4 linked regions of the Homo sapiens genome follow. The protein of the gene in region 3 interacts with the protein of the main gene of each other region in a pairwise test. Each region holds a gene or a part of one and is shown on either strand. Other genes may lie near its edges. The genes, in order: SPRY3, AMMECR1, HR and RBP3.

Region 1 (7,302 bases), on a different chromosome or scaffold from region 3:
ATTTTGAGAGACTGCTATCTTTTAAATATGAAGAAACTTGGAGGGGGAACCTTCCAGGACACTGTGATGATCCACATTATTATTTTCTCCTCTTCTAATTCTTGATTTGTAGAAATTTGTACAAGTACTGCTTTCTGCACAAACTGCAGCATTTTCAGCCTGTAGTGCAAAGTCATGCCCTAGGTATCTCCATTTTTATTTTTACTTAGCAGACATGGCTCCAATAGATAGGATCCTATTTGGGTTCCACTACAGAATGAAGGTGGGGTTGGCTGTGCAAACTTGAGGGATACAGCCAGAATAAGCCGCTGAGACAGTGAATTATGGAGCTCAAACTCTAATTAAGACAAATCACATAAGTGTAGGATGTCTGGTTAACACTGATTTTACAGCATGGAGTTCTCACTTTAACTGCAGGTAGTGGTTTGTTTTCAATACCCACAATCCTTCAGGGATGAAACATGCCCTAGGGCCACTAGAACCTATTTTCCAAAAGCAGTGATATTATAATTTCTTGTTAGTCCTCTGAAAGTTACTATACTTTGCATCACATATATTTTATAGCCCCAACAGTCTGACTTTAGAGTGTGAAAAGTGCAGAGTGAGGGTTTTTCTGAATGCCCATCATGCTCTGACAAGCACAGGTGTTGGTTTGAAATTGCTTCTACATGAAGCCTGTTGACCTTAATGCCTGTACAGGAGGTGGCCCTATACTCCAGAGATACTGACTTGATAGTGAGGACCACCCACCTGCCCTTTGCGGGTAGCCTTTGGCTTCTGTGAGTTTGTAGTAAAAGCAGGGCAGGGAACCCATGTCGGGGTCTTCTGCACTGCTCTGTTGGTGAAGTTCCTTTCTCAGATGCATAGACGTTGTGTAATAAGATACGGTATAAATGAAGAGACCCTTGAATACCTTTGGCTGCTCTGGAGCCCCAGATATATTGAGTCTCTTGCTCAGGAAGTCAGTCATACTAGAGAAGTTGGGCCAAGCATTGCTGGTAATACACTGAATTTCAAATAAATCTTTGACCATACTGAAATGAGGGGACCTTTGCTGATATCACCCTGACTACCAGAGTGGAGAGGACATCATTTGGTAACTTGGCCTACAGACCCTTGAAGACACATTTTTTCCTGTTGGCATATGATGATAGCCCAACTCATTTTATGAGAAATAGTTGAAACAAAAAGGAATGTTTAGGGAGAAGAAAACTCATGGAAGTGGGAGAGTGGTAGAACAAAGGAAAATCCAGGAAGGATGGAGTAGACAATGTGAGTAGACCAGGATTAAAACCTATGTTTGTCTGACTCCAGAGCCCAGGGTTCTTGCCTCACCAACAGTAAGACTGGAAAAAATGTAATAGGTAATATGAGAAAAAATTAATATGGTTTGATGACTAGAATATACTTCATTGTTGTATGCATTTCTTGACTTAAATCCAAAATGGATTTAAGCTATTTATAGTACAAGACGTGCATAGAATGTCTGCTAAAACAAAAGTTAAAAACAATTCAGAATCACATAAGCAGAATAAACTGAAGATAATGATAGTGACAGAGTTTGATCACAAAACTTAGCTGTTCTTGCATATTCTTGCACTCATACTGACTCTGTGAACAATAATAGTTGGTAAATCGGGTTTCCAGCATAGAAGCGGCAGCCATTGGCATTACTGGCTGCAGTAAAGTTGATTTTCTGTTGTAGAAATAGCACTGGTATATATAGTAGCATCTAGTCCTTTGTGGTAGTAAAAGAGGTTTCCTCGTCACACCAGTTGTGCAGTGAATTTTTGGTTGGTGGTCCTAGACACCCAGCCCATGCCTGGTTCTCCACGATTCATGATAATTCTGTTAGCCACCAAATATCTGTTTTTTCTAACTTAATTTTTATTGAAGTATAGTTTATATATAGTTAAATGTACAGATCTTAACTATACAAGTCAACGAGTTTTGACAAATGTATACACTGTGTAACCAACAACACAATCAAGATACAGAACATTATCATCACTCCGAAGGGTTTTGTCATTACTCCTTCCAGTAAATACACAACTCCTCTGCTCCAGGAAACCATTATTCTACTTTCTACCAGCATAATTTAATTTTGGAATTTCTAGAATTTTATATAAATTGTCATACAGTATGTATTCTTTTGTGTCTAGCTTCTTTAGCTGAGTATAATGTTTTTGAGGTTCATCTACGTTTGTTGCTTTCGAGTAATTATTTTATATGGGTGAGTAGTATTCCATTTTATGGATGTATAGTTAATTATCAATTTGCATGTTTTGAATTATTTGCAGTTTGGAGCTATTACAAATAAAACTGCTGTAAAAATTTGTGCAGAAGACTGTATGAGTATATATTTCCATTTCTCTTGGGTAAATACTTAGGAGTGGTATTACTGAGTCATAGGGAAAGTGTGTTTAACTTTATAAGAATCTGCTAAAGTGTGTTTAACTAAGAATCTTATAAAGTGTGTTTAACTAAGAATCTTATAAAGTGTGTTTAACTTTATAAGAATCTGCTAAAGTGTGTTTAACTAAGAATCTTATAAAGTGTGTTTAACTAAGAATCTTATAAAGTGTGTTTAACTTTATAAGAATCTGCTAACCAGTTTTCTAAAGCAATTGTGCCATTTTATTTTGCCATCAGCAATGTATGAGAACTCAAAATGCTCCACATCATCATCAACACTTGGTAGTATCATTCTTTTTTAAATGTTATAGCTTGTGTGAAGTGTTGTGTCTTTGTGATTTAACTTTTCCTTCAGTTCAAGAGTAAATGATGTTGAACATCTTTTCATATGTTTATTGGCCATTCGTACATCTTCTTTTGTAAGTATATGTTTAAATCTTTTTCCCATTTCTAATTGGGTTTGTTTGTGTTTTTATGTTTGATTTTAAGAGTTCTATATGTATTATAGATACCTTACTTTTGTAAGATATAGGTATTATAAATATTTTGTATTTAGTCCATGGCTTATATTTTCATTTTCATAACAATGTCTTTGGCATGCAGAAGTTTTTAATGTTAATGAAGTTTATCACTTTAAACTTTTATGGTTAATGATTTTTTTTCTATTTTGAGAAACAATTGCCTAACACAAGATCATGAAGATATTCTCCCATGTTTTCTTCCTTATGCTTAACAATTTCAGCATTTACGTTTAGGTCTATGATTAATTCTAAGTTGAGTTTTTTTTATGGTATGAGGTAGAGTTTGAGGTTCATTTTCTTCAACTTTCAGTGGTTTAAGAGAATTTCCCTGTTCAAAGGCATTGGTAATGATATAAAAAAATTAAAGTAATAAGACAGCATTGTATTGGCTGAAGGATAGACACTTAGATCAATGGAACCAAATACAAAAAAACAGAAACAGACCCTCACAAATTTGCCCAACTGACTTTTGACAAATGTGCAAAAGCAAGTTAAAAAAAAAGTAAGGATAGCCTTTCAAGCAATAGTCCTGGAGCAACTGAACATCTATAGGCAAAAGTATGAACTTCAACCTAAATTTCATACTTTACCAAAAAAAGTCACTGAAAATGGATAATGGACTTAAATGTAAGCCACAAAACTATAAAACTTTTTTTAAAAACATGATAAAATCTTTGGATATAGGTTTCAGTAAAGACTTGACATCTAAAGCGCAATCCATAAAAAAACTTGGTAGATTGGATTCCTCAAAATTCAAAACTTTTACTCTGCAGAATATTGTCTTAAGAGGATGAAAAGACAAGCAACAGAGTGGGAGAAAATACTTGTAAACCACATATCTAACAAAGAATTAGTATGTTAAATATATAAAGTTCTCAAAACTCAACCATAAAAAATGCTGAACAATCCAAGTAGAAAATGGGCAAAAGACATGAAGAAACCTTTCACCAAAGATTATATACAGATAGAAAATAAGCACATGAAAATATGTTCAATATCATTCATCATCAGAGAAAGGCAAATTAAAATCACAATTAGATATCACCACAGACCTGTCAGAATACCTGACATAAAAAATAGCTAAGATAAAAAATACAGTACAAAATGCTGGAAAGGTTGCATGGAAGCTGGATCTTTCATACATTGACAGTGAGAATATAAAATGGTACAGCCACTCTGGAAGACGGTGTTGTAGTTTCTTAAAGTATTAAATATGCAAATAGCATATAACCCAGGAAACATACTTTTGGACATTTAGGCCAGAAAAATTAAAACTGGTATTCCCAAAAAAAACACATGTGTACAAGAATGCTCATAGAAGCTTCACTGATAATAGAAAAATACTGAAAACAGCTCAAATGTTCTTCAGTGGGTTATTGGTTGAACAAACTCTGATACATACATACCATGAAACACCACTCAACAATAAAAAAGAATCAACTATTGACACACACAACTTAGATGGATCTAAAGGGAGTTAAGCTGAGTAGAAAAAAAGCCAATCCCAAAAGGTTACATATTGCCTGACTCCATTAATATAGCATTCTTGAAATGACAAAGTTATAGAGATGGAGAACATATTAATGGTTGCCAGGTGTTGAGGAGGAGAAAGGGAAGTGAGTGTGGCTATAAAGGGGCAGCATGAGAAAGCTTGTGGCAATGGAAATGTTCTACATTTTAATTGTGGTCGTCATTATACAAAGTTACACATAGAATATTTTATACAACTACACACACACACATATGCATGTGTAACTGGTAAAATTCAAATATGCTCTGTGGATTTTACCAATGTAAATTTCCTGGATTGATATTGTACCAGAGTTAGGCAAGATTTTACCATCAGAGGAAATTGTGTAAAGGGTACACGAGGTCTCCCTGTATTTTTTGGAAACTTCCTGTGAATTGACAATTATTTCCAAATAGAAGGTTAAAACCAAAGAAATATATGACCATAATATATGTCGGCCTATTACTGGATTCTGAGCTATTTTATTGACTTATTTGTTATTTCTTACTCTAATACCACACTGTTTTGATAAGTGTAGTTTTATAGTTAGTCTTGAAACCAAGAAGTTCTATAACTCCTCCTCTTTTTAAAGTTTTGCTGGAAACCCCAAGACATATGTTTACCCGTCCCAACATCTGCACAGATTGTCTTCTCTAATGCCTTGCTCCATAGATTTCAGATGCTTCTGCTACCCTGAGCTCTGATCTTTTCCTCCTTCGTTCAATGAGACTGCAAGCTCAGCTTGGAATCTAGCTCTTGATGCTGGGATCAGAAAATAGTCACCAGGCAAAGAGCTAAGGCAGTCTTGGGGCTTGATTTGTGAGTTTCTCTTTTCCTGGGGATCATAATCATGGGCTGACTATTGCTCAATATCTTTAAACAGTTTCCTTGCATATTTTATGCAGTTTTATGATGTTTCTAACGGCAAGAGTGCTGATCCAGTGTCATTCCCAACATAACTTTTTTTCCTGCTTAAATCAGTCAGCTTCAGCTTCTGTTGCATGCAACTAAGAACCTTGACTGATACAAGCCCCTATTTTATGCCATGTCCTATGATATGTGCTTGGCATTTATTATGTGATTTAATCTTAATTTAGAGAAATAATTCCATGTGGAAACTAGAGAAATGGGCAAGAAGCATTTCTAACAGTGAGGACAAGGTTGAGGAGAGGGAGGTTGCAGTGAGAGGAGCATTCTAGATGGAGGAAGAATGTATAAATGCACAAGGGAACCAGCATGCAAGAATTAAAGTATGAAATTTTTGTCATCTTCAAGGGAATTCTTCTGAGACCTTTATAAATTATCCTAATCCAATAAAACCACTATACATAGAATTTCCTCCATAAATACAGTAAAGTACAATTGTTTATATAGTAGGATATTACTGGACGGTTTTAACTTTCCCACCCCTATTAACATGGGTACTAATAAAATAACTAAGCATCCTAGTTTGCCCTGAACTGTTGTGGTTTTAGCACATTACAGGGAATTCCTCAGCCCCAGGAAAACTGAGAAAATTATCCTTTGGTATATGTGACATCGCTCACCTAGCTACAGTTGATTGGTCTTAGGTGGCCACCAGTCTCAAACTTGGCCAATAAATCCCTCATAGATTTATGGAGATAGGACCATAAAGGTCTATGGTAACCAGGGAGTGCCTCTCAGATCTTTCAAGGGAAAACCTACTATGAGGAGTGGAGTCAGCTAACAGTCTCCAGCTGGAGCACTTTTGGGATTATTTTTGCATCATTTGATCCAAGGCCATTCCCTTCCCAGGCATCTCCAGCCAATCTCTGAGCACAAGAGGTGTACTAGGGCTGTTTCTGTCTAACGCAGGATTCCTCTAATTAGCAGTCTCTGTTGGGGTGGTTGAGACTTCCATAGAGCTGTACTGTAATCTCCTCTTTATCTTGCCAGCCATTACCCACGATAGATCTGTAGATTTGCTTTTCAGAGGACCTGATATGGCTTAGTGTCTCTCTTCAGTGGTTGAATCTGTAATATGAAAATCTAGGAAGGTGTCCGTAACCGTATCTACTGTTACATGGACTTGGGAAACAAAAAGAGCTTGAGAGGAGTGGGGAGGAAAGCAAGGAAGGGAACGAGGGGATGAGAGAGAGAGAAGAGAGAGAGAAGAGAGAGAGAGAGAGAGAGGAGAGAGAGAGAGAGAGAGAGAGAGAGAGACCCCAGATAAATGTGCAGGGAAAAATAGGGGTAAAAGAATGATAGAGTCAATGTCACTGGAATCCTTGTTTTTGACGATTCTTGAGGCCTAACTATACCTTGCCTTTTTAAAAGTTTTGATTGTTCTAATCCTTCTTGAGTTCTGTGAAACACCTTATTATCTTCCCATAAATTTCTCTCTTTTGCTTGTTAGTTTCAGGTAGGTTTTGATAACTTTTAACTAATGAGTCCTAATTAATACTTCTTCACTGCAAAATTAATTGTATAGGTTACTACGTTTATGCTGAATCACATTTCTGTTGAGAGTCAGAAATGTTCATATCCCCAGAGTCAGAAATGTTCATAAACCGAAACACAAATTAATATACCCTTCAGCTTTACCAAATTTTTGTCCATGAATAGGTGAGGAAAATTTTGTATGGTCTAGATGATTTCTGAAAAGTTTTAGCATTTATTTGTTTCTCTATAGAATACCTAGCAGGATTCTTGTCATAGACCAAAGCTTCAGCCAAATTCAACATTGCACTGTGTCCAGAATATTTATTTTCTGGCTAAAAGTCACTACTTTTATAATAAATCTTCCTTCTTTAATTTTTTAACTCTTTCAAAGATCACTAGTAGTTCTTTTAAAGACCATCTTTGATAAATCGAAGTTCACAATCACAATTAACA
Region 2 (7,517 bases), on a different chromosome or scaffold from region 3:
ACGTATGAGAAGTTAAAACTGTCAAAAGCACAACATCTGGTGGGCAGAGACATGACCTGAAACACACTGCTCATGACATGATAATAACTATGAGAAAAAAAAATCCCAATATGTCTGTTTATGTCTTATGGCACTTAGGATAAAGCAACACTAATAAGTACACAATGCTGTTAAATATGTAAAACAGAAAGACAAATGTGTGGTAGTTACTAAGGCACTGTTGAAATGCTTAGTTATGTCCCTCCCATAATCAGGAAGTTTTCCTGAATTTTCCACAGTACACCTCAAAAATGAGTTGAAGATAAATGGAAATAAGACAGTCCATTTTCCACTTAAGTGAACTTTCATTCTCCACTTGGTCATGTTTAGTGTCTACTCTACATTAGTTGTTTTATAGAATACATGACACATTCAAGGTCTGCTAGATGATAATAGTTATTATTCTTCCACCACCGTTTCAACATATCCACAGTGGTCAAAGTGTGTCCTATCATCTGCTTAATTCCATGAAAAAGAAATCCAGGGGCTGGGGTGTTTGAATAGAATAATATCTAAATACGTGTGCAAAGTGGCTACTGTTAAAATGATATTTTCAAAAGCATTTTCTGTATGAACTGGTCAAGCTCACTTTCCTTTTAAAATTCTTGTTATAGTCATTGAGTTAACCCAAACTCACTGTAAAATGTGTGAAAATAGCACCTCCTGAAAGTGTGTTCTCATATGCTTTGGAGCAATGGAGCGTGAATACTAAAGCAGCCTTTGCCAAACTCATGTTAACAGCTCAAGAACTAAACAGGAGTGAATTTTTGCAGTCCCATGACTTTGCAGAGCCAACCTAAGTATCATCCCAGGACTAGCTTTAATACATCACAGACATCCAAGAGAAGGCATAAAAGTCACAAATAAGTGACTCAAGCTAATAAATATTTCATAGATTTATTTTACATGGCAGTCTTTTCAAAATGAATTTTACTTCTTAACCAAAAAAATGAATTGGCTAAATAAAAGTGTGGACTTAGGATTTAAGCTTCTAGAATTAACACTATGAAATTTATAAAGATATTTATTTGACGAAGTGTTCTCCTGGATGCTCTTTCATGCACTTCTCATAAACCAATGCCCAAAGATTAACCAAGTCTAAAAGAAAATGCACAGACCACAGAAGAGTCATACAAAATTAAAGACATTTAAAGAATGAAAGCCAAAGAAAACAAACAGTACAAATGCACAATTTCCAGGACACTTTATTGTAATTTCCACTTTACATATTAATTTAATATTTTAGTCTAGGCAGAAATGTTTATACTTATACAACAGTAGTCCAATCCTCTAATCTCACAAAATGAAAAGGAGCAGTTTTAAAAGAACATCAATTCAGGTATTTATGATATGGGGGACAAGGGGCACTTGTCTTAGCTGGAAAAGGGGCTGATGCCTTTCAGTACGAGTTTCACTGAAATTTTTTCTGTATTATTTTTCTTGTTGATGCTAAGTACTCAAATAAAAGCAATTGCACTTTTTCTCATTCTGCCCTCTCTTGGTCTTTACATTCTGTCTAGCATTTAACGCAAAAAGTCAGTTTACATTCAGTTTACACATTAAAAAAAAAAAACCATATGCCCCACCTCCCACACATCCAAATGGACAGGGATTAGAATTAACCTGGCTTTTAGCTGTAACAGTGCTATTTTAAAATTTTTCAACCACACACTTGAAGGGTAAAATAATTTAAGATACAAAACCAAAGGAAACCATAACAATTCCTACACATTTACTATTTAACTGTTCTCAAATCATCAAGTATAACATGGATTTCTTAAAAAGTGAAATCGACACAAAAGCGAATGCACGCTTAATGTACAAACTGACCGTGGCTCTGTGGGGACAGTTCTCTTTGAATGAGCTATTATCCAGACGGTGGAATGGAAAAAAAAAAAAAAAAGGTCGCACTCTTCAAATGTGAGGAAGCCGGCAGTGCGCTCGCTACACGAGAAACACATTTTAATGGGTGTATTTGGATAAAAATAAGTAGTAAGGGAAAAATGTGTTTTAAGAAACCTCCCCCCTTCCCAGGGCACAAGAAAACCCAGAGGAGAAGATGGGTAACCTCACAAGCTCCAGAGCTAAGTTCCATCACTAACAGAAGTTGGATAGTTGCTATTTTTCATCCTGCAATGGGATAGTAGTTCTCCATGTGCAAGATACGCGGGGCGGGAATACTGGCGGGGCTTTCACTTGGGGTAATGGAAACCAAAGTGAGGAGAGGTCAACACCTTGAGTAACCCAGATCTCCAAAACCGGGGCAGGGTGAGGGGTGGTGGGGGTGGTGAAGGAGACAAGTAAAGGAGTCAAAACTCCTCGAAGTCATCGCAAAGAGAAAGCTAACACCTCTAGGAGCCACGGGGCCATTCCTTGCAGCAGCACCCTGCTCCAAGTGTGGGGTGCCTGCCTCGGAGGGCAAAAAGCGCAGGGTGCCCTTAGTTCAGTTGAGTAGCTCCGGGGACCCGGGCAGCGAGAGGGCAGGGGCATCCGCCGGCCGGGAGGCGGACTCGCACTTTGCCTCAACTCTGAGCCCCATCCCGAGCGCAAGGGAGAGGGCGGCGGAGGGCACGGTACTCACTAGGGCTCGTTGGTGAATCGGGGGGTCCGGGGCTGCTGGTATCCATACAGGTGACAGTAGAGCACATCGAAGCAAAAGCAGCACATCTCTGCTGACACCACCATCTTCCGGGAGCCCGGCGATGAGGACGAGGCGGCGGACGATGAGGAGGGTGAGGAAGAGGTGGCGGCGGCCGGGGTAGAAAGTAGGGTCCCCACTCCGCAGCTCGGAGGTGGCGACAGGGCGATCCCCCCGCCGCCGCCGCCGCAGCCCTGGGGGGGAGAGAGGGTACAGCCGCTGCCGCTACCTCCTCCGGTTAGACCTCCCAGCCCGTTGAGCCGCGTACCGGCGCCTCCTAGTCCCAGCTCCCCAGCTCGGCACTGGCTCTCTCCGCTGCAGTGGGAGGAGGAGGAGGCGCCACCACCGCCACCCGAGCCAGAGGGGGGCGAACTGGACAGTTTCTGCTTCTTCACCCCGCAGCAACCCGCCGCCATCTTGGAACAGTCTCCCCCACGCAGCGTTTCCGACCCATAAGTGAGGCGAGCTGGCGGCGGGGGCGAGCACGCTGCGGCTCAGGCCGCCGGGGGCGCGCCAGAGGCTGGCGGGGCGCGCGCGCGCCGCTCCCGGCCCCGTCTGCCTAGCCACGCGGCTGCCCCGCGCGCGCCCCCGCCTCGGTGCGCGCTCCTCGCTTTCGCGGCTGGGCGCCTCGCGCCTGTCCCGCCCGACTCGTGCCTCTTCTGAGCCGCAGCCCCAGCCCCAGCCCCAATCTCAATCTCTCCGGCCGGCAGAGGTTGGAAGACAGGAAGCCGATTAGAAAGGAAGGTGAAGGAAACAAGAGTCAGACAGCGGAAAGTGGGAGCAAAGGGAGAAGGTGGGCACGCCCGGGAAGGAAGGAGGGAAAGGGAAACTAGTGGGGGTAGGGGGGAAGAAAGGAGAAAGTCCGAAGTAAGCATCCAGGTCCCAAAGCACAGCTCAGTAACCCCCCGCCGCAAGCAGTATTAATGACACTTAAGCCCAGTTACGTGGAACCTGAGCCACCCGGCCTCAAATACACGGGTTTCTGAACTGTTGGAGTGTGAGCGAGCAGGTGCCCAGAGCTCCATACCTGAGACCGCCCCTGTAAAGTGTGTACAAAGCAATCCAGGAAATGGCCACGCTGCTGTCTTTTTAATTCCAGCCTAAGCACACACCAGGGTACTCTTTCCTTTCCTTATGGAGAAATATTCAAGTCCGACTGAATCTATGTATCTTGTACTTGTTCCCCCAACTTACCCTCCTTGCCCCGTTTAAACATTTAAAAGCCAAAAATAAAGTCCTAACTAATACTTCACTGGTTCAAAGATACTAATTGTGCTTTGGGACTTGCAGTGGTGGACTTTTCTGGTTTTGGTTTTTATTTCTTGGCTTGGGTACAAAGCAATTAGGAATATTATCTGTAGTGCTCAGATCTTAGAGATAAATAGGGAAGGTAATGTACTTAGTCACAAATTGAAAGATTTTGTTCAAGTATATAATTAGCTCTTAATATTCATTTTTAAAATTTCTCAATTAAATGCTTGGATGGATGAGGAGACATATGAGTCAGTCCCTTTCTGGGTGCCTAAGTGCAGCTTAATAATAAAAATAATGACAATAATCAAATGTTAAAATTCGTAGAAATGAACGTGATAGAAATAGAAAGCGTAAGTTATTTGCATTGTATCTACACCATGCTAAAACATCTAGATAAAGTCAGGTATCTGCATATTTAAAAACTGCAGATTGATTTTTGTCACCTTTTTTCTACATGCGTGGGATCTTGCAGATAGCTGGGGGCTGTTCATTCCACTCAGGGAATAAAAACAAAACAATTTATTCATTCAGTAATATTGAGCCTCTGCACCATACTATGTGCACAACACTATACTTCTGTTGAAATCCAGGGCGTACTCAGGAAGTATGCCTCCCGCTCTAAAAGAGTTTATGAATTAAGTCAGATACATGCACATAATCAGATAAATAGCTATTATAGTATGTATTGAACACTTTTTAGGTCTCCAATACCATACCTCGTCCTACCCCATAATCCTTCAGAATAAGATACTATCTCGTTTTATCTTCACAACAATGCTCTGAGGTTACTCATTAACAGATGAGGCTATTAAACCTCAGAAGTAATTTGCCCAACATCACACACCTAGAAAGTAACAGAGCTAGGATTGGAATGCTGGCATGTCTGATTCCAAAAACCATGCCATTATACTACATTGCCTCTCACTAACAATATATGATAACAAGGCTAAGGATGGACAAAAGATAGTGACATTACACTCCAGCAGGTGGAACCGAGGTTAAACAGAAATAAGAACTTAGTTTTTATGGAAAGATTGAGAGACACTGAAATATGTTACCAAGGAAAGATGAAAAATCTCCTTCCAAAAAGATTTTATGAGATAGATAGATGAAAATCTGGAATGGTTAGATGCAGCCTAAAGACAAAAGGGATAGTTTAATTGGTCGGTGATATGTAATTTCATCCTCTCAAACTTCATCACTGTTAGAATTAACCTTAAGTATGAAACAAATAACAATTCTTTGTCAATTACTAGTGGAGTAAAAAAATGCATTAATATTTTGTCTATGTTACAGAAGAGAAAGCAGATTGGTTTTTTTAAAAAGCACCACAACAACTGGTATGTTAGGGTGTTTTGTACGTTAGGGTGTTTTGTTTTGTACTTTGTCCTTAACTACCACAGGCTACCTTTTAATTTTTTTGAAACTAGACTGAACATAATATCAGACAATAGGTATCGATTTACTCCCCACCCCACTAAAGTGATCATTTCTAGAGTAAAAAACCAGAGCCATTTAATGACATCACAAAACAGTTTAGCACAGGAAGCAAAGTAGGATACCATGGATGGCTGCTTCTGCTAGGGGAATTTAGGAAAGCAGAATGTAATCTCCCAATTTAGAATTTGGCCAGTAGACAAGAGTCTAACGCCCCTACTCTTGTGAAAAATAGCAAGGAATCTTTAATAAGCACCAGTAGTCATGTCCTTAGTTCTGCATTTCATCTAAAAGACAAAGCACTATCATGGCTATCCTGCCAGGCTAAGGGACTGATGCAATGGGAAAACCCAAAGACAAGGACACCCCAGCTGAATTACAAAAATAGCTTTTCCCTAGAGGATTTTCAATTCCAATTCCAAACCTCACTAGCATAAAGAAAATAGACAAACACAAATGTGATAATTGCAGAAAATACATCATTACCTGACCGCTAGGGGTTATTATCTAAGTACTTTGTTGTATTGGCTGACTAAAAGGGGGAAAAACACTAACCTTTATCTTTGTGTTAACTTCTCCTGAGCCTGGCTCATCTCCCATACTAACCTTGAGCCTCAAGATGCTTTATAAATCGCTTGGCAAGTAGTGGTGATGGTGGTAATGTCTCCTTTAGGCATTTGAGGAAATGCCTCTCCTGGCCTTGTTTTCTTGTAAAGTCACCAGCATAAAAAGAAACATATTTCATTCAAACATAAACTAAATCCACAGAACAAATTCTGTGAAAAAAATTTTTTTACATCTATGCAAAGTGCACACTGGGTGGATAGAAAAACTGACCTTGCTCAGGATTCTCTTGACTTGAAGTATAAAGGTCAAAATATGATAGAGCACATGGTTTCTACCCACTGCTGATACTGGACTGCAGTGATAATACCCTCCAGAGGAAACTTTAAGTTGCCTTCCTCTCTTTGTAACTGACTGTCAATCTGGGAGCTGAAGATTCCACTTAAAAAAAAAAAATAGGCCATAGTCTCTTTGTCAACAAAGCACATTCAAATTGTGAGCATTTTTATTTCTGCAATTTAGAGGCAGCTCTAAATTGCTGTTAACTAACTCCTGTCAAAGGCTTTGTTTTACAACTGTGGAAAAAAATACTTGGACAGAGGTTATGCATATTATTTATTGTGCAGCAAAGCTAGTAATTGAATTAAACCCAATAGTTAGTTAATATATTATCATTGCCTCAATTTGTTCTCGTGTTTACAACATAGTTATTTTTTCATTTCAGAAAATAAGAATAATTATAATTCGATGAGGTGGTGAACTTAATGTTGCAAAATTATTTTCTTAGGTTTCTGGGGTTGTGGGTAAAAGGAGGAACATTCACATATTTCATTGAAAAAAAAACCTGCCATTTATGCCCAAACAAGTGTTATTTTTATCCTCTGTCATCAAACTTTCTCAACTGTCATCCTTGAACAACTGCAGAATGTAATATTCTTAGCTACCACTTTGATCTAACCTTGTACACGTATAACACATGGTTGTTGTGGTGGAGGTGGTAATCAGTTCCCTTTTATATTTGAATGAATACGTGAGTAAATACTGAAATTCTTTACCTACTTTTCAATTCAAATTCGTAAATCAGTTTTTGTTTTTCTGATTACAAAACAGATCCTTCCTTCCAAAATTCTTTCTTTATCTAATGAACACATTTATGAGCAAAAGCACCATGATCTACCTTGGATTGTTTTCTAGTTGTTTCATTTACATCTTCTATTGTCAACTTGAGTACAAACTAATTGAATGTTGTTTTGCTACCTATTTCCTTTAGAGAAAGTTCTATAAACTCCTTAATGAGATTTAGATATGCTAATATCTACTCTGAATGTGGAAGAATTAATAAAGCTAGCTAGTTGTAGATTGGAGAAAAAGGCTTTCTAGGAAGAAGATGATCAAACAGAGTGTTATTTGGGGCAGTTAGAGGAGTTGTGAACAATCAAAACATGAAGGTGTCTACTATAGTTTGGGAAAGTCTTTACTTGACTGTTTTTCTCTTTTCTCTCTTTTTAAAAGAAGAATTCATCTACTAGCTTCTGTACATATATTGGGGTTTGAAAATGTACATAATGAAACCCAATTGGCCTCA
Region 3 (7,360 bases):
CAGCTGCCAAGGGCTCCTTTGCCAACCTGGGAATGCTCGGATCCTTGTAGTAAAAGCCCTAAAGAGGGGAGAAAGTGTTACGCTTCAGCTGACTTGGGCTCCCCATGCCTAAATGGATGGGCAGAACTGACAAGCAAGAAGGAAGGGGAGAATACTGAAGCCCTCACATTCTGATTAATAAACAGCACTGCCCTAGGTCTCTGGAGTGCCTCTGACACTGTCCTGGCAACCCCCACCTCCTCCCCCAGGATTTCTCAGACGTCCCCACAAGGAAGTCTAAGAACTAAAGAGTGAATGCCTGGCACAGCCAAAGGGCATCTGGGGTCTGTTTGGGCCATTTGGTGTCCTGTGCCATACTGAGTTTTAAGTGTTTTAACATCTCATCCCTGGGAGTGGGAGTCATCTATGGAGGAGGTACCCTAGACATGGGCCATGGGGTCCCCTGCACATCCCAGTCTCAGATAGAGGGCCCTTGTCTGCCCACCCATCTCCTCCCAGGACAAGCCACACATTCCAAGGCCACAGTTCCCAGGACCTTATCCTAGGCAGACAATGGGTGAGTCAGTGGCTGCAATGACCCGAGGGCAGGGGAGGCCTAGAGAGATGGAGCTGCTCAGGGTAGGGCTTGCTTGGGGTTGACTGTGGGGCCTGGGACAGCTCCAAGCTGATAGACCCCTCTACCTCGGTGCTGCCTTCTCTTTTCATCACAGTGGAAGGGCATCTTGGGGACCACCGAGCAACTTTGCTAGGCCAGAGCCACAGGTACCCTCTCTGCCCCTGCACTCACCTTGCTGCCTAAGCTGAAGGCAGAGGGCACTTTGGGCTGGCCCCCGGAGTATACCCAGGGGTGCGGGGTCAGGGGCCAGTCACATGGATGCTCTGGGGGCAGGCCAGACACTAGGTAGGGTGGCAAGCAGGTGGGCACCCAGAAGGGAGCTCGCTCCAGGATCTTGGTCTCCAGAAGGAAAGGGCAGTGCCAGGGCCGGAAGGCCACAGGGTCACTCTTGAGATGGCCACCACTATGCTCAGGCATCAGGGGGCCACAGCGAGGTGGGCACGCTGGCCCGCAGAATGCCAGCGGATGGGTAAGCATGGCCTCCTTCCAGCGCAGTCCCTCTTTGCTGCCCAGCCAGTTGACCTTCCTCTCCCCATTCTGGGGGCCCTCGCCCTCCACAAGTGGGAGCATGTCCTTGGGGCCCTGGGGGAAGCCAGGGGGAAGCCAGGAGTCTGGGGTGCTCAGGACGCCCCTCCAAAAGGGAGCAGGCTCTCCCAGGCACAGCGGCCCATGGTGCAGTCCATCTCGAGGCGGGCTGCCGGGCTCCTGTCTCACGATGCCGTTCTCTGGGGCCGTCTTCTCCCAGGTTGGGGTGCCCTTCAGGAAGCTGGGCGTACTCTCCATCACTCTCCTGCCCTCATGGGGCTCTCCCAGAGGGGGGTCCCTGGAGCATAACCATCAAAGCATGAGCTTCTGGGGCACATGTCCCAAGCACCTTACAGCCTGGCACAGAGTGGGCACCGCCCTGGCAACACTGAGGCAGCTCAAACCAGTAAGGCAAGTGCCAGCCCACAACTGGGCACCATGCTGCCTCTCCACATGCAGCCAGACACATCTTGCTCCTCCAGTGTGGGGATGTTACCCCTTCCCCAAATTCCACCTGGGCCAGTGCCCCTCAGCGGAGGCTGCCATTGCTAGTAGGGCATGTCCTGGCCTCACCAAGCTAGGAATCTGCTCACGACCCATGAGGGAGGACAGAAAGTGGAAGGCACTGAATGAAGAAAAAGGCTGGATCCTGAGCCTGACTCTGTCCTATGCTGTATGGCCTTGGGCAAATCATGTCACTCCTCTGGGCCTCAGTGTGCCCTTGAGGCTTGGGTCGGCTCAGAGGATTCTTCCCATCCTGCAATCCGTGGTTTTGGGGGTGCTGCTAGCCCAACCCTAGCCTACAGCCCCAGCCAGGCTTGTAGCCGTGGGAAGTGCAGGCCTGGCAGGCTGGAGTCGCTGGGGAACGCTGCCAGCCAGGGCCGCTGGCTGTGTCTCTCTCTACACCTGGGCGGCCCTGAGTCAGCCTCTTCCCAGAGCCCTGCAGTTTCTCGGCTTCTCAAGCAGAGTCCCAGGACAACTGCAGGGGGCTAGGAACCCCGCCCTGGCCCCCAGCGGGAAGAGCGCGCCGGCACAGGGGAGGGGGATTAAGAAGCCTCAGCTGGATGGGTCAAGCTGCCCTAGCCCAGCCAGCAGTGCCAGGGCAGCCGCCACCGCCGCTGGAAACTTCAGCCTGGCGGGGAGGGGAGAGGGAAGGAGGCGGGGAAAGCGGGCTGGGCCCCAGAGAGAGGCAAGGGAGGGAAAATTGAACGTGCGTGCAAGGGACCAGGATGACAGGTGGCACTAGAGCGGCAGCGCTGCCTTGGCGCGGTCCCTTCGGCCAGAGCGACGAAGCCCCAGGCGGGAGGTGACGGCGCAGTGGCAGAGGGCGCCCAGGTTTTCTGGAGCCACCGCTCCGCCGTGGTCTGGCCGCGTCGGGCTTCCTAACTTTCAGGTGTCAGAATGTGTGGCCCAGCCCACAGGGGCACGGGGAACACGCTCCGTACGGGCACCGCAGGCTCGGCTCAGAAATCCCCCGCCACGAGTGTCCCCAGACGGCGCGCTCCTGGCGCTTACCTGGGCTTCACCGGCCGGTCGCGGCGCGGGCGGTGGCGGTCGTCGTGGCCGGCACCGGGCGCCTGCTCCCCATGGGCCAGCTCCGGGGCCTCCCGGCCGGCGGGCGAGGACGCGTTCTCCCGCTCTGTCTGCTCAGCGCGCTCGCGCTCTCCTTCCCCCGGGGCGGCGGGGGCGCTCTAGGGCCGCAGGTTGGAGGGGTCGGACTCCGGGATCTGCAGGATGCGGCACACGGCGCGGATCGGCCGCACCAGCTTCTGGGCCGAGGCCGTAGGTTGCGCCATGGGACGCCGAGACTCCGTGCTGCGCCGCGGGGAGGGCCGGGCCGGGGCTAGGGAGCGGGTGCCCCCGGAGGGAGAGAAGGCGCCGGGCCGGGGGGAACACGCGCCCCGGGTCGGAGATGGCCGAGTTGGGGGAAAGGCCGAGGGGCCGGGGAAGGGGGTCGTGCCTGGATGGTGGGGGCCGATCCTGGGACCCAGGAGAGAGGCACCGGCGAGGGCGCAGCACCGCGCAGCGCGGCTAATGGAGGTAGAGCGCGGCGGAGAGCGCAGCAGGACCTCTGATCGCCATCGCCAGAAGCGCAACTGAGAGTGGGGAAGCTGCTCCGCCGGTTTCCTCCTCCAGCACCCTGCGGGAAACAGGAGCCCGTGATTCGGCGGCCGCGCCTGGGCCTGCCCCCTCCCGGGCCCCGGGGGCTTCCGCCAACGCCCCGGCGATGCCACCGGCTGCGCACGGGGAGAATGAGCCCTTTGTTCCCCCTCCCCCCCGCGGCACCCGGGCGCCTGCCGAGAGAGGCTCCCCCGGGGCAGCGTGCCAGCTTCCCAGCCGCCCCACCCTCCCGTGGGCCCGGCCCCGGAGCCTGGCAGGCGGGCGGCACCCCCACTATAGGTGCCAAGCCCGGGAACTGGAGCAAAGGGCGGGAGGGGCCGGACCAGGCCACGGTTGGGCGGGGTGCCCCCCAGGGTGCTAGGGCGGGGCGGCTGGGAGGGGGCAGTGCCAGAGCTGGCAGGGGCAGTCGAGTTCTCACGGGTCAGTGATGGGCGCTCTGGCCCACGCCAACCGGGCTGTGCCTGCCGGGCCACTGGCTCCTGGTCCTCTCCATCTGTGGCACATGGCACGCCCCACTGGCCTGTGTCTGCCCTGCCTCATCCTCACCTGGCCAAGCTGCTCTTTGCCATCTTCCACCCCAAACCCTTCCCAAACCTCTTCCAGAGCCCAAGGGCACAAAGGGTTGCGTCCTAGGACCTCTGGGAGGGCCTGGGCTTGGGTCTGTCCCTGGTCTAAGGGCCTTGATTTTGCCAAATGTCTGGAGAGGTCATGGGCCCAGATGAGCTCCGACACCGGCTCCAGACCCCGGGCTGTGAGGGTCTGCCCCATCCCCAGGGTTCCTGGTGCTTCCAGGCCAGGGGCTGGAGAGGCGCCCATGGGAGTGGCTCCCGGGAGAGTGCAGAGAGGAGGAGAGGAAATGGAAAAGCAGGGCACCCTCCACCCGAGGAAGCATCCCGGCTCCGCTGCGGGGGTGGTTCCAGTGCAGACACAAACAGACAGATTCAAACACACACAGACAGATTCAGACTCACACAGAAACCCACACGCCCAACGGGCGCTTCCCTTCCCCTCAGGCACCCACCTCCCACCCTCGGCTCCCCTGCCTCCCTGCGGAAGCCAACCTTGGCCTGCCTGGGACAGAAGCTGCACTCCCTCTTTCCCATCCCTTGCAAGCGATGGGTTCTGGATGCCTCTAGCTTGGTCCCAAGTCACACCACCATCCCTGCAGAGGGGAGCCCTGAATAGCCAGGAGCCTTCCTCCTAAGGGATGAGCAAGGCCTAGAGCCTTCTACCGGTTGAGAAGAGTGGGGGTCCTGGGGAGCGGGGGTCTAAAGGAGCGGGCACTGGGCCGGACTTGGGCCATGTTGGCATCCATTCACCCTGCCCCTGGCCTGCCCCCAGAGGCCAGTTCTGTGGCAAGGCAGGCTGGTAGGGGTTGTTTACATGACTGAGTTAGTAACACTCCCTTCCTCCCCAGCTCCCCTGAGGGTGGCTGGGACCTGAGTGTGCCAGGGGAGATGCTTGTAGAGGGTCTAACATGGACTGGAGGCCCCAGGCCCTGAGGCCCGGCCTCCCACTCCCAGGCTGGCTCCAGGGGTGAAGGTAAGGGCTGGGGTGTGTCTGTGGTCCCCCATCTGTGTTCTCTGTGCTCCCTCCTCAGCAGCCGAAGCTTGTGGGAGTGCCAGGGGGAGATTCCTGCGGCTTGGGGCCTCGGAGAGGCCAAGATGGGAGCCTGCGCTGTCCAGAACCCTGAGGACCTATCGCTGACATCCCCAAAGGGGATGGGGACTATCCCAGGGGAGTGGGGCAGATATCCCCCCCAACCCCAGTTGCCATGTCTGCTTTGTCAGGCCACGGTCCCTGGACTAGAGTAGCAGGGCTCTTGGGGACAGGCTCCTGAAAAGCCCAGGGGCTCGTGGGGACTCGCGGGATGGGAGGAAGGACCCCTTCCCCACCCTCGCCCAGCTCCCCATCCCGCTTTGGAGCCCATGCCACAGGCCCACAGAGTCCTTGTAGCCGGCTGTTCTGTGCCTGAAGACGGAGCAGAGCTGAGGAGACACACAAAAGACACAAACACAGAAGAAAAGCCACACGGCGCGTGGACACAATGCCAGACTTGTGGACAAAGGCAAGCTGACCAGCACCCCCAGCCATTCAGGGGCCAAGCCCCAGCCCCGCACCGACCCCTGGCTCACTGACACACACTCACTCGCTGACACACGCTCGTGCTGACGGGCACAGCAGCACTCACGAGCCGGCGGCCCTCATGCCATCCCCAGAGCCCCTTACCTGGGCAAGCACAGTGCCCCCCGGGCGGAGCAGCCCCCGGCCCAGGGGAGGGCAGCAGGCGGGGGCGGGGGAAGGAGCCCCGGAGAGTCAGGCCAAGCTGCCACTAATCCGGGCGGGGAGAGGGGGGGCACCCACGTCAGAGCGGGGACTGCCGGGTGGAGGGCATCTGAGGACATCCCCTCCCACACACGCGGCCGTCTGGGCACCTAGCCCTGCTTCCCCAGCCCCTCCATCCTTCAGACAGCTGAGGCTGGCCTCCCCCCACCCCACCCCCCACCCTGTGGCAACGCCTGGTGGGGGATGGGGAAGGGGGAATACCAGGCGAATTCTCCCGGGACCCGCGGGGGTGGGGGCAGGGTGTGGGGAGGAGGGGAAGGGAAGTGTGGGGATGCGTTTGGAACCCGGAGGAAGCTCCAAAGCAGATGCCGCCATCCCCTCCCGCCCACCCACCTACATCCCTAACCTAATTCCTCTTCTCAGTCTGCACCTCCCAGTGCGCTTCCTCCTCCCCCCACCTCCCCTCCCCTCCAGGTTACCCCCACAAGCTACCCACCGGGGAGAGGAAGCCAGCTCCACTCTGCCCTGGGCTTGAGACCTTTGTGCCTACCCGGAAACACCAACTGTGGCCCCCAGGACTTCTCCAGCAGCAGAGAATCCTCCTCCTGCCCAGGCGTCTGCCCCCTACCCAGCTCTTGAGACCTCTGGTCCCTGATGCTGGGTAGAGGATGGAGCCAGAGGCTGAGTGCCACCTCCTTAACCCCCTCAAGGTGGAGGGCAGTGCCAACCAGGATGCCCCAACCCAGCCTGGGCCAGGGCTGTGTCAGAACTAGAGGCTAATCAGTGACAGCTAAAAATACAGCCAGTGCGTGCGGCGCACATGGAGGCTGGAGACGGGGAAGGGGACCAGGACACGGAGGGCCCCAGGCCTAGAGGGACAGTGATGGGGGCTGAAGAGTCAGGGAGGGAGAGGAGCCACCTGGAAGGGCCAAGGGATGGCTGTGGGTGGAGAGCAGAGAGAAGAGAGGGGCAAGAACAGAGGGCGATCCGCACCCAGAAACCAGGGTGGATATGCAGGAACCCCTCAAAAGCAGACAAGCTGCAGGGGAGGTGAGGAGTGAGACCAGGGCACAAACCAAGTGGGGCAGGGGCCAGGACCCAGCAGAGGTGTGCAGCTCTAAGGGGACTGGCTGTGGCAGCTTTGTGTCCCCACCAGCCCTGATCCTGCTCGTGGCCCACTGTCTGGTGGCGAGAAGAGGGTTGGGGGTGCTTAGGCAGGCTGGCATGCAGCCTCCTCTTCCAAGAGAGGCCAGGCCAGAGGGGGTGGAGGGTGAGACAGTAACCCCCTCCAGTGTGCAACTGGAGGCAAAGTGTGCAACTGCTGGGCAAAGGTGAGGTCTCAGGGGTTCTCAGAGAGGCAGGGCTGGCTCTCAGGGAAGCCCAGTTGACAACCAGTGCCCTGAGCCTCCGGGTCCCATGTGTGCTCACCCAGAAATGCCCCAGAATTTGGACTTCTCCTGGCTCCTTCCCCTCTGTCCCCAGCATGTGTTGGAATTCATACAACTGCAGTCAGCCGTTCACCAAACCCGTGTTCTAGGGGCCTTGGCATGTTCAAGGCTTGGCGGTGGGCCCCAGGCGATGCAGGGCACAAAGGCAGAAATCACGAGGCCATCCCACCCGCCCGGCCTCCCCCACCCAGAACATATGGTCACTTCACGCATTTGTTCTTTCACCAGCAAAACTCCTCCAGGCTTCTTAGGTATTGGCCCTGTGCTGGGCGCTGGGGGTGTTGGGCTTGTTCATGAATGATTACAAGATGCTTCTAGTCCCACCCTGGGGAAGTCAGGGGAACTTCATGGAGGAGATCAGAGA
Region 4 (7,302 bases), on a different chromosome or scaffold from region 3:
GCTTCTGGCAGATGGCCGCTGCCCAGGCTCCCTGGCCACTTGCTCCAGATTAAACATCTTGCACAGGAGCTTCTGGTTGACCAAGGCAGGATCACATGCCCATGCCCTACTGCCAGAAGGGCTGGAAAAGTGGGGCTTCCAGAGTGTTCAGCTTTGTGGTGGAGAAATTATGACAGCTAACATTGGCTGGACACTAGATTAACTCACTTCATTCTCACAACTCCAAGTGTAGTATTATTTCTCCCATTGAACAGGTGAACAAACTGAGGCCCAAAGAAGTGAAACAAATTGCCCAGAACCACTCAGCTGGGGAAGTGGCTGGGCTGGTTTCCCACCCAGGCAAGGCTGACATCACTGTTTCCTACTGATTCCTATGGGCAGTGATTCTCTGATCATCCAAAGGTGCTGCAAATGCTGGGTGGCCCAAAGGAGGACACAGGTCCACCATGCTGGATGTGTGACCTTGGGTGAGCTGCGGAGTTTGTCTGTGTCTCAGCTGGCTCCTGGGTAGAAGATGAGAGTGGCCAGCTATGCAGCCGGCATGAGGCTCAGAAGAGACACAGCCAGTGTATGTACATCACCAGCAGAAGGGCCGCACCAGCCCTTTCCCTATTTAAGATCCACAAGATCTTTGCCACCTGCTGACCCCACAGCATCTTGCACCACATCTTAAATAAAATCAGCTGTCCATAGAGGTCAGCAGGGCAGATCCAGAAGATCTAAATAATGTGAATGGAGAACTCATGAAAAGAAGAGATTTAACAACCACTAGTGATCACTAAATTGTGGTTAATGGCTCGGGTATATAATTTATTTTATCTTCTTTATTTTGTATTTTGGAATAATGATAGCTGCATCTGAAAATAATGATATATGCACATTAATGAGTATTTAAGAAAAAGAGCAAAGTATGAAGAAGGAAGGTAAAAATACCACCCCAAGTTCTACCACTTAGAAGGAACCTTTGTTAAAATTTAGGTGGTTATTGGAAAGCCATATATATATACATATATATACATACACATATATATGTGTATATACATGTGTGTGTGTGTATATATACACACCTCCAGCTGTAACCTAACCAGAGCTCAGCAGGCCCCTTTGCTGCTCCTGGGAACCTCAGGCCGGGCCACCTGCAGGAGTGCCCTTGGTGTGTGTCCCAGAGGTTCTGTCTGCCCTGGGGCTCTGCCTATGGGGCCCTTCCCTACAGGTGGTCCTGCAGGCCTGGGCTCCGCTTCACCCTCAGCTGGTTGTGCTGGAGCATCTCCTTGGCCCTGGCGAGAGCCTCTTCTGCAGGGACAACCACATGGGGTGTCACCCCCACCCCTTCCCAGGAGCTGCCATCCGAGGCCCCCACAGAACGGGCCGTGGGGATAGTGAGGTAGAGGTTGGTGTCATCCACGTGGTAGGTCTGTGGTGGCTGGCAGCCCCCACTGGTCACCTCCCCAATGACCAGGGCCCGGCCCAGCCTCTTCATGATATAGGTGAACTCCTCCGCGGTGCCGGCCGTCACACTGCTGGTCAGAATGACCATGCTCTTCTTGGAGCCATAGCGTTCACCTGGAAGACATAAGGCCCTTCAGGATGGGGGTCATGTCAGGACCCTGGAGCACCTGTCTTCTCTATCCTGCCTGGGCCTGCAGTGATGGAGGAGGCCCGGGGGTTTAGGTCTGTGTCCTTGTGTCCACTTGTGAGCCACTTGACTTCTCTGAGCCTTGATTTCTGCATCCGTAAAATGGGGACAAGAATGCATGCCCAATCACGAGGATTTCAGTGCTTGACAACTCCCAACGAGGCCTTTTTATGCCAAGTGATAGGAAAGGCTTGACTCTCCTGAGAAAGGAGCATCCTCTCTCTTCATGAATAATGAGAACACCTAAACCGACCTGACTTCCTTTTCACTTTGGACTCAGAAAAGCCCAATTTGTGATGTATAAGAACAACTCTCCAGGACAGCACTGTCCAACAGGAATGCAACGTGAGCCAGAATGCTGGCCATAGATGTCATTTTAGGTTCCCTAGTAGCCATGTTAAGCAAGCAAAAAGAAACCCATGGTGTTAATTTTAATCATGTTTTGTTTAAGCCAATGTATCCAAAATACATTCTTTTCAAAATGTAATCAAATAAAATTATTAATGAGGTTTTCTTTTCATAATGTCTTCAAAATCTGGTATGCACATTACACTTCCAGCACATCACACTTCCAGCACATCTCAACTTGGGAGAGCCACATTTCAAATGCTTGGTGGCCGCAGGTGGCTTGTGGCTCCCATATTGGACCTTGCGGTTTTGGGGCCTCATTATCTGCAGAATTGAGTCTATCTTTAACTTCCAGTCTTGAACATCTATTTGAATTTAGAATTCACCTGGTTCTGATTTGCATTTACACTTGTAATATTATTGAACGTATGTCCTAGGAGCTACAGCAAAATGCCTGTGTATTACAGAAGCATGGACATGAAAATGGTGGGGTGTTTCTCTGGTCACAGGCACACCCCCATCGGTCTCTCCAGTCCTTTCTTGTTGGGTAGGAGCACAAGTTCCTTGGTCTTACACACTGGGCAGGGAAGATAGATGGAGGCCATCCACCCTGGAATGGGGCTTTGAGAGTTATGGTTCTGTAAAGCTCAGGGCCTGCCTTTGCTCCTATAGCCACTGCTCTGGGCCCAGGGCGGGGAACAGAAGCCCGATCAGCATCATGACCTTTCCAGGCAAGTTTGTGGCACTGTGGCTTGAGAGCTCAAGTACTGTGAGCACTGGCAATGCCCACTGGGGTTGGTGAGGGGCGGGGAGAATCCTTCAAATTCTGCATTTGTCCTGCAGGCTGGTGATTATGGTGCTAAGCCTGGGGGAAATTTTGGTATTAGACAAACTAATATTCACATTTTGGGTTTCACTTATTAGCTGCATGACCCTAGAAAAGATATTTGACCTAGTCAACACCCCCTTTTTTTTCCTCTAGAAAACGGGCATAGTGATACATGCTTTTCAGGGATTCGAGATCATGCACATCTAGTGCCTGGACTAGGACAGGGCCTTACATTCTGGTTACTATGACTTTTACCTACACCCAAGCTGTCTTTCCCTGGTTTCCCAGAAGCTTCTAGAATGACAGCAGAAAGGAGAAAGCTTCTCCACGTACCTACAACCTGGGCGTGTGTCCAGAGTTCACTGACAGAGTCATCAGGCCGGCTGTAGATCTTGTCCAGCAGAACTGGAGGGCCTTCATCAAAGAAGTAGGAGCACAAGATGGGAATGGAGGATGTGGGGCCACCGATGTTGAACCTGAAGGATGGGAAGCAGAGCCTGTTCAGGGGCTGAGCTCACAGTGAGGCCCTGTGTGCCCCTCGGGGAGGCCAGGATCTTTGTCCCATGGAGGGTTCTAATTCTTGGCAGCCTCAGTCTAGTGCCTCTTCCTCCTTTAGAATTCCATGGGTTGGCATTTTCCAGAGTATTTCCAAGAGTACTAGTCTCTTTAGAACAAGAAACTTAGTGATCAAATATGTTATCCTTTCCTTCTGCTATGTAATTAATACATGTTAATATATTAAAGGCCCTGACAAGTCCTGCAGTCAGAAACTTGTTGATAAATTTCCCCCATTTATTGACCATGGACTGCTCCCCTGCACCCATATCTTCCTATGAGTGGAACACATTTTGGGAAACATTGTTTTTCCCGTTGCATTCTGTGACAATCTTATGACACCTACCAGCTGTCTTAGTTCAGGTGTCTTAACAGGGCACTTAGTGTATTGAAATATTCAGGCTTGTGGAGCTGCATTGGGAGCAGGGGAGCCTGTATTTCTCCCAGGCCATTTAGATTTGTCCCACTGTGTGACCTCGTTGGGCCCCTGTCTCCCCACTGGGGCTAGTGATGTGTTAAGGAGCCTCGTCCAACTGATGGCCTGGGATGGCCTGGCTGGGTTCGGGGCCTGTGATGTCAGTGTCTGAACCTCCAAACAAACCTCAGGGGTGGGAGGGTCTTTAAGCAAAGTGCACTTGCAGGCTGGGGCCATCTCCTCTTTAAAAAGTGTAAATGGCATATTCAGAAGAAAGAGACTTAGCATGAGTGTCATTTGGGTGCTCAACAGAACTTCTAAAGAATAAAATGATCAGAGAGACCCCAGGAGCCTCAAGCTCAGGCTGTGAACACACACAGAACTGGAGCCAGGGCTAATGTTTTATCTCCCAGGGAGGAGAAGCAGTGGGTGCAGGACCGAGAGCCACCTAGTGACCACTAAGAACCATGTGAGTGAGCGCTGAGGGCTAGAGAACTGGAGCTGGGTGAATGCTTCTGGTCTGCCACCCCCTGCCACTTCTTTCAGACAACACGGGAGCATGGAAGGGTCCCGTCTGAGGAAGGCAACCTGCCCAGGGAGGGTGCTGGGGCATGTCCACCAATGGACCCCAGAGTCATGGGATGCCAGGTCTGGCCACTGCCTGAGGGTACTCATCCACCTCCTACCCCTGGTCCATGAGGTAAACTCATGACATATGAGGCACATTTTTACAGAAACAGAGGGGAGGTGGCTAGCTGAAGACATCCTTCTGACAATCATTTGGTGATGCAAAGAATTCTTTTGTTAACAATAGTGATTAACTTCTAAATTTTCCCTGTGTGATTTCCAAATTCTGCCTGTACGATTCATATGACCAGGGTTGTCATGTGTTGATTTTGTATGATGTGAGGCACACTCCCAGGTGGGGGGCCTGGCTGTCTCACACACCACTGACCATCAGAATCACCTGGGATGCCTGTCAAATAGAGATTATCGGGCCTGTCCCCTGGAGCTTCTGAGTCAGTAAGAGGGGAGTGGGGCCCAGGAATCAGTGTTTTTAACATCTCCTTCCTCTCCTCCCCACTGAATCCTATGACCAGGCAAATCTGGGGTAATTCTCAATCTGGAATGCACATTGGAATCACTGGAGAAGCTTGCAAAAACTACCAGTGCTGGGCCCCACCTGCAATGACAGCAGATCTGCTGGGCTAGCTGGCCGAAGCCCTGATAGGCAGGAGGCCTGGCCCCCCTCAGGTCCTCTGCTGTGTCACAGGGTTCCTTTTCTTCCCTGCTGTGGCCCATAGCTTTGACTGTCCCCTGGCAGCCCTGCGTCCTGGCTAGGAAGCACTGACCCCTGGCCACTGACCTCATGTCGATGATCATGGCATCCGTGTGCATGATCTTCTTCCAGATGTGCTCCACCAGCAGCCTGGAGACCTGGGTGAGCAGCTCACCGTCCCCAAACATGTCAAACCTCAAGTAGCCAATGTTGTCCTCAAGCACGTTAGTGTGGAAGGAAAACTTGATCAGCTCTTCAAATACTTCAGGGGAAGGGATCTGTAAGAGTTGGAGGTCCTACTCAGTGTCAGGAGGAGCAGCCAGTTTTAGAGCCCAGGAAAGCAGGCGCCATGGGAAATATTAAGGGCATGGGACAGGAACTAACATTTCTGAAGGAATTAGTAGACACCAGGGACTTTCCCAGTGGCATGTCTGGATGTGACATGCCACTGGGACATGTGTGATCTATGGGCAGCCTCCTTGCAGAGGATGCTCCTGTCTGCCACCCACATGCCCTGGTGTCCTGAGCTAGAAGGCCCAGGAATGGACTCCCCTCTGACCTCTCCAACCTTACCAGATACTTCCTATGTCTCTAAGCTGCTCCACTGGGGCAGGATTGGAAGATGTTAGTTACCTTTACCAGGCACCTGGCCCGGTACTAAGCACTTTGTAGAGCTTATCATCATCCTCACAGCCACCTGTACAGGAGATAACACGATCCCCATCTTTTCCATGGAAAAACTGAAGCACAGAGAGATTAAGTAACTAGTCTCAGGTCACACAGTCAGTAAGTGGTGGAGCCAGAATCTGAATCCACATCTGACTCCAAATCGTGAACCTTGGCTATACTGGAAAGGAAGGAGATGTTGATTTGGAAACTGGGGATTCTGCAAGCCTAGCACAGGCTACTCGCACGTGGATGCACCTCCTCCTCCCTCTCTAAGGCTGCTGGAGGGAGGCAGGTCTTGGTGAGATTGACAGGCAAGGAGACTTCATTGACAGAGACACTGCCCTCCAGGCCCTGCCCTGCCCTCAGTCACAGCTCTCTGGCCTCAGGCCACTCCCCTCTGCTCCTCTCCGGGCCTCAGTTGCGGAAAATGGGGATAACAATTCTGTAGTAGATGCTTTTGGCACTCTCAGCCCCCTCTGCTTTCAGCTGCACCCGACCCCACTGACAGGCTCTCCTATAGCACAGCCCTGCCTTTCCACCCGTAGCTCAGGCCTTCTCCAAGAAGAGGGAGCCTGCCCCACCCTGAGGCATGTCTCAGGGCAACTCTTGGCCAATGCGGGACAGGAACCACTGGGCCCTGCCTGCAGAGGGCTATGCCTGGGAGCATCCCTGCACTCGTCAGGGTCCTGGCTTCAGCAGAACAGCTTTGAGGCACCTGCCTGTCAGCTTCCCAACCCACTCTCCCTGCTCCCTCCTTCATGCCTGCTTCAGTAACCGCCTCCCAGACAAAGCGCCTGCACCCAAGCCCTGGTCTCAGACCCTCCTTGCAAGGGATCCCATGGCAAATGCTGCCCTGCCCAATTGTGACGATGCAGCAGACCACAGGTAGAACAGTGTGGAGGTGTGAGTGCTGCCTAGGTGGAGCTCTCGGCCAGCGTGGGGCACTTGGTGAAGTCCATTGGCCACCTCTGACAGGTGTTGGCCTCTTCCCTAGCACTGACAATGAGAAGCCCTGCCAACACTCACCTTCCACCCAGCCAAGGCTGAAATGCCTTCTATCCCAGGAGCTTCCGAACTGGCTTCCTGTGAGTATTGGTTGGCTTTCAAACTGGCTTCCTGTGAGGTGGGTGCAAAAGTAATTGCGGGTTTTGCCATTGAAAGTACTTTTGCACCAACCTAATATGAATGTTCTACAGAGGTGTTCAGCAACCCCAGGGTCACAGAGAGTGGATGGAACAGGTTGAGAAAGAGGAAAGGACTTGACCGGTCAAAACTTAAACGTGAGAACAAATCTAAAAGCCATTGTCACGCACTGTGCACAGAGCCCTGCATGTGCGGACAATGGGTCAACTCACTCCCGGGACTGGGTTCAGCCAGGTCTCTCTTGGGTCTCACCTGCATGGGCACAATTCCAGGAATGCGGTCCTTGGCATTCTCAGGGATATGGGCTGCCTTCAGGTGTGGGTCTCCGGAGAGCATCTGCAGGTCAGCCCCCAGGATCTCGGCTAGGGCCACTTCTGAGGTCACCCTGGAGTAGCGGCTCTGCAGACCGCTCAGTTTGGTGGCCATCT

The links.
Region 1: the proteins of HR (region 3) and SPRY3 interact in binary tests that used the Homo sapiens proteins (3 or more experiments, as listed by UniProt).
Region 2: the proteins of HR (region 3) and AMMECR1 interact in binary tests that used the Homo sapiens proteins (3 or more experiments, as listed by UniProt).
Region 4: the proteins of HR (region 3) and RBP3 interact in binary tests that used the Homo sapiens proteins (3 or more experiments, as listed by UniProt).

Annotation. Positions count from the first base shown.
Region 1 is NC_000023.11:155,615,429-155,622,730, reverse strand, and holds part of SPRY3 (protein sprouty homolog 3), read right to left. Parts: intron 1-7,302. UniProt on the Homo sapiens protein: Inhibits neurite branching, arbor length and neurite complexity. Inhibits EGF-mediated p42/44 ERK signaling. Negatively regulates the MAPK cascade, resulting in a reduction of extracellular matrix protein accumulation.
Region 2 is NC_000023.11:110,314,979-110,322,495, forward strand, and holds the start of AMMECR1 (nuclear protein AMMECR1), read right to left. Parts: upstream 3,108-7,517; 5' UTR 3,094-3,107; coding exon 2,621-3,093; intron 1-2,620.
Region 3 is NC_000008.11:22,127,772-22,135,131, forward strand, and holds the start of HR (lysine-specific demethylase hairless), read right to left. Parts: upstream 3,240-7,360; 5' UTR 2,938-3,239; coding exon of another isoform or gene 2,833-2,937; 5' UTR 2,657-2,832; intron 1,440-2,656; 5' UTR 1,400-1,439; coding exon 788-1,399; intron 59-787; coding exon 1-58. Other genes in the region: protein HRURF, read right to left, coding at 2,833-2,937. UniProt on the Homo sapiens protein: Histone demethylase that specifically demethylates both mono- and dimethylated 'Lys-9' of histone H3. May act as a transcription regulator controlling hair biology (via targeting of collagens), neural activity, and cell cycle.
Region 4 is NC_000010.11:47,351,363-47,358,664, reverse strand, and holds the end of RBP3 (retinol-binding protein 3 precursor), read right to left. Parts: coding exon 7,127-7,302; intron 5,341-7,126; coding exon 5,150-5,340; intron 3,290-5,149; coding exon 3,147-3,289; intron 1,564-3,146; coding exon 1,208-1,563; 3' UTR 784-1,207; downstream 1-783.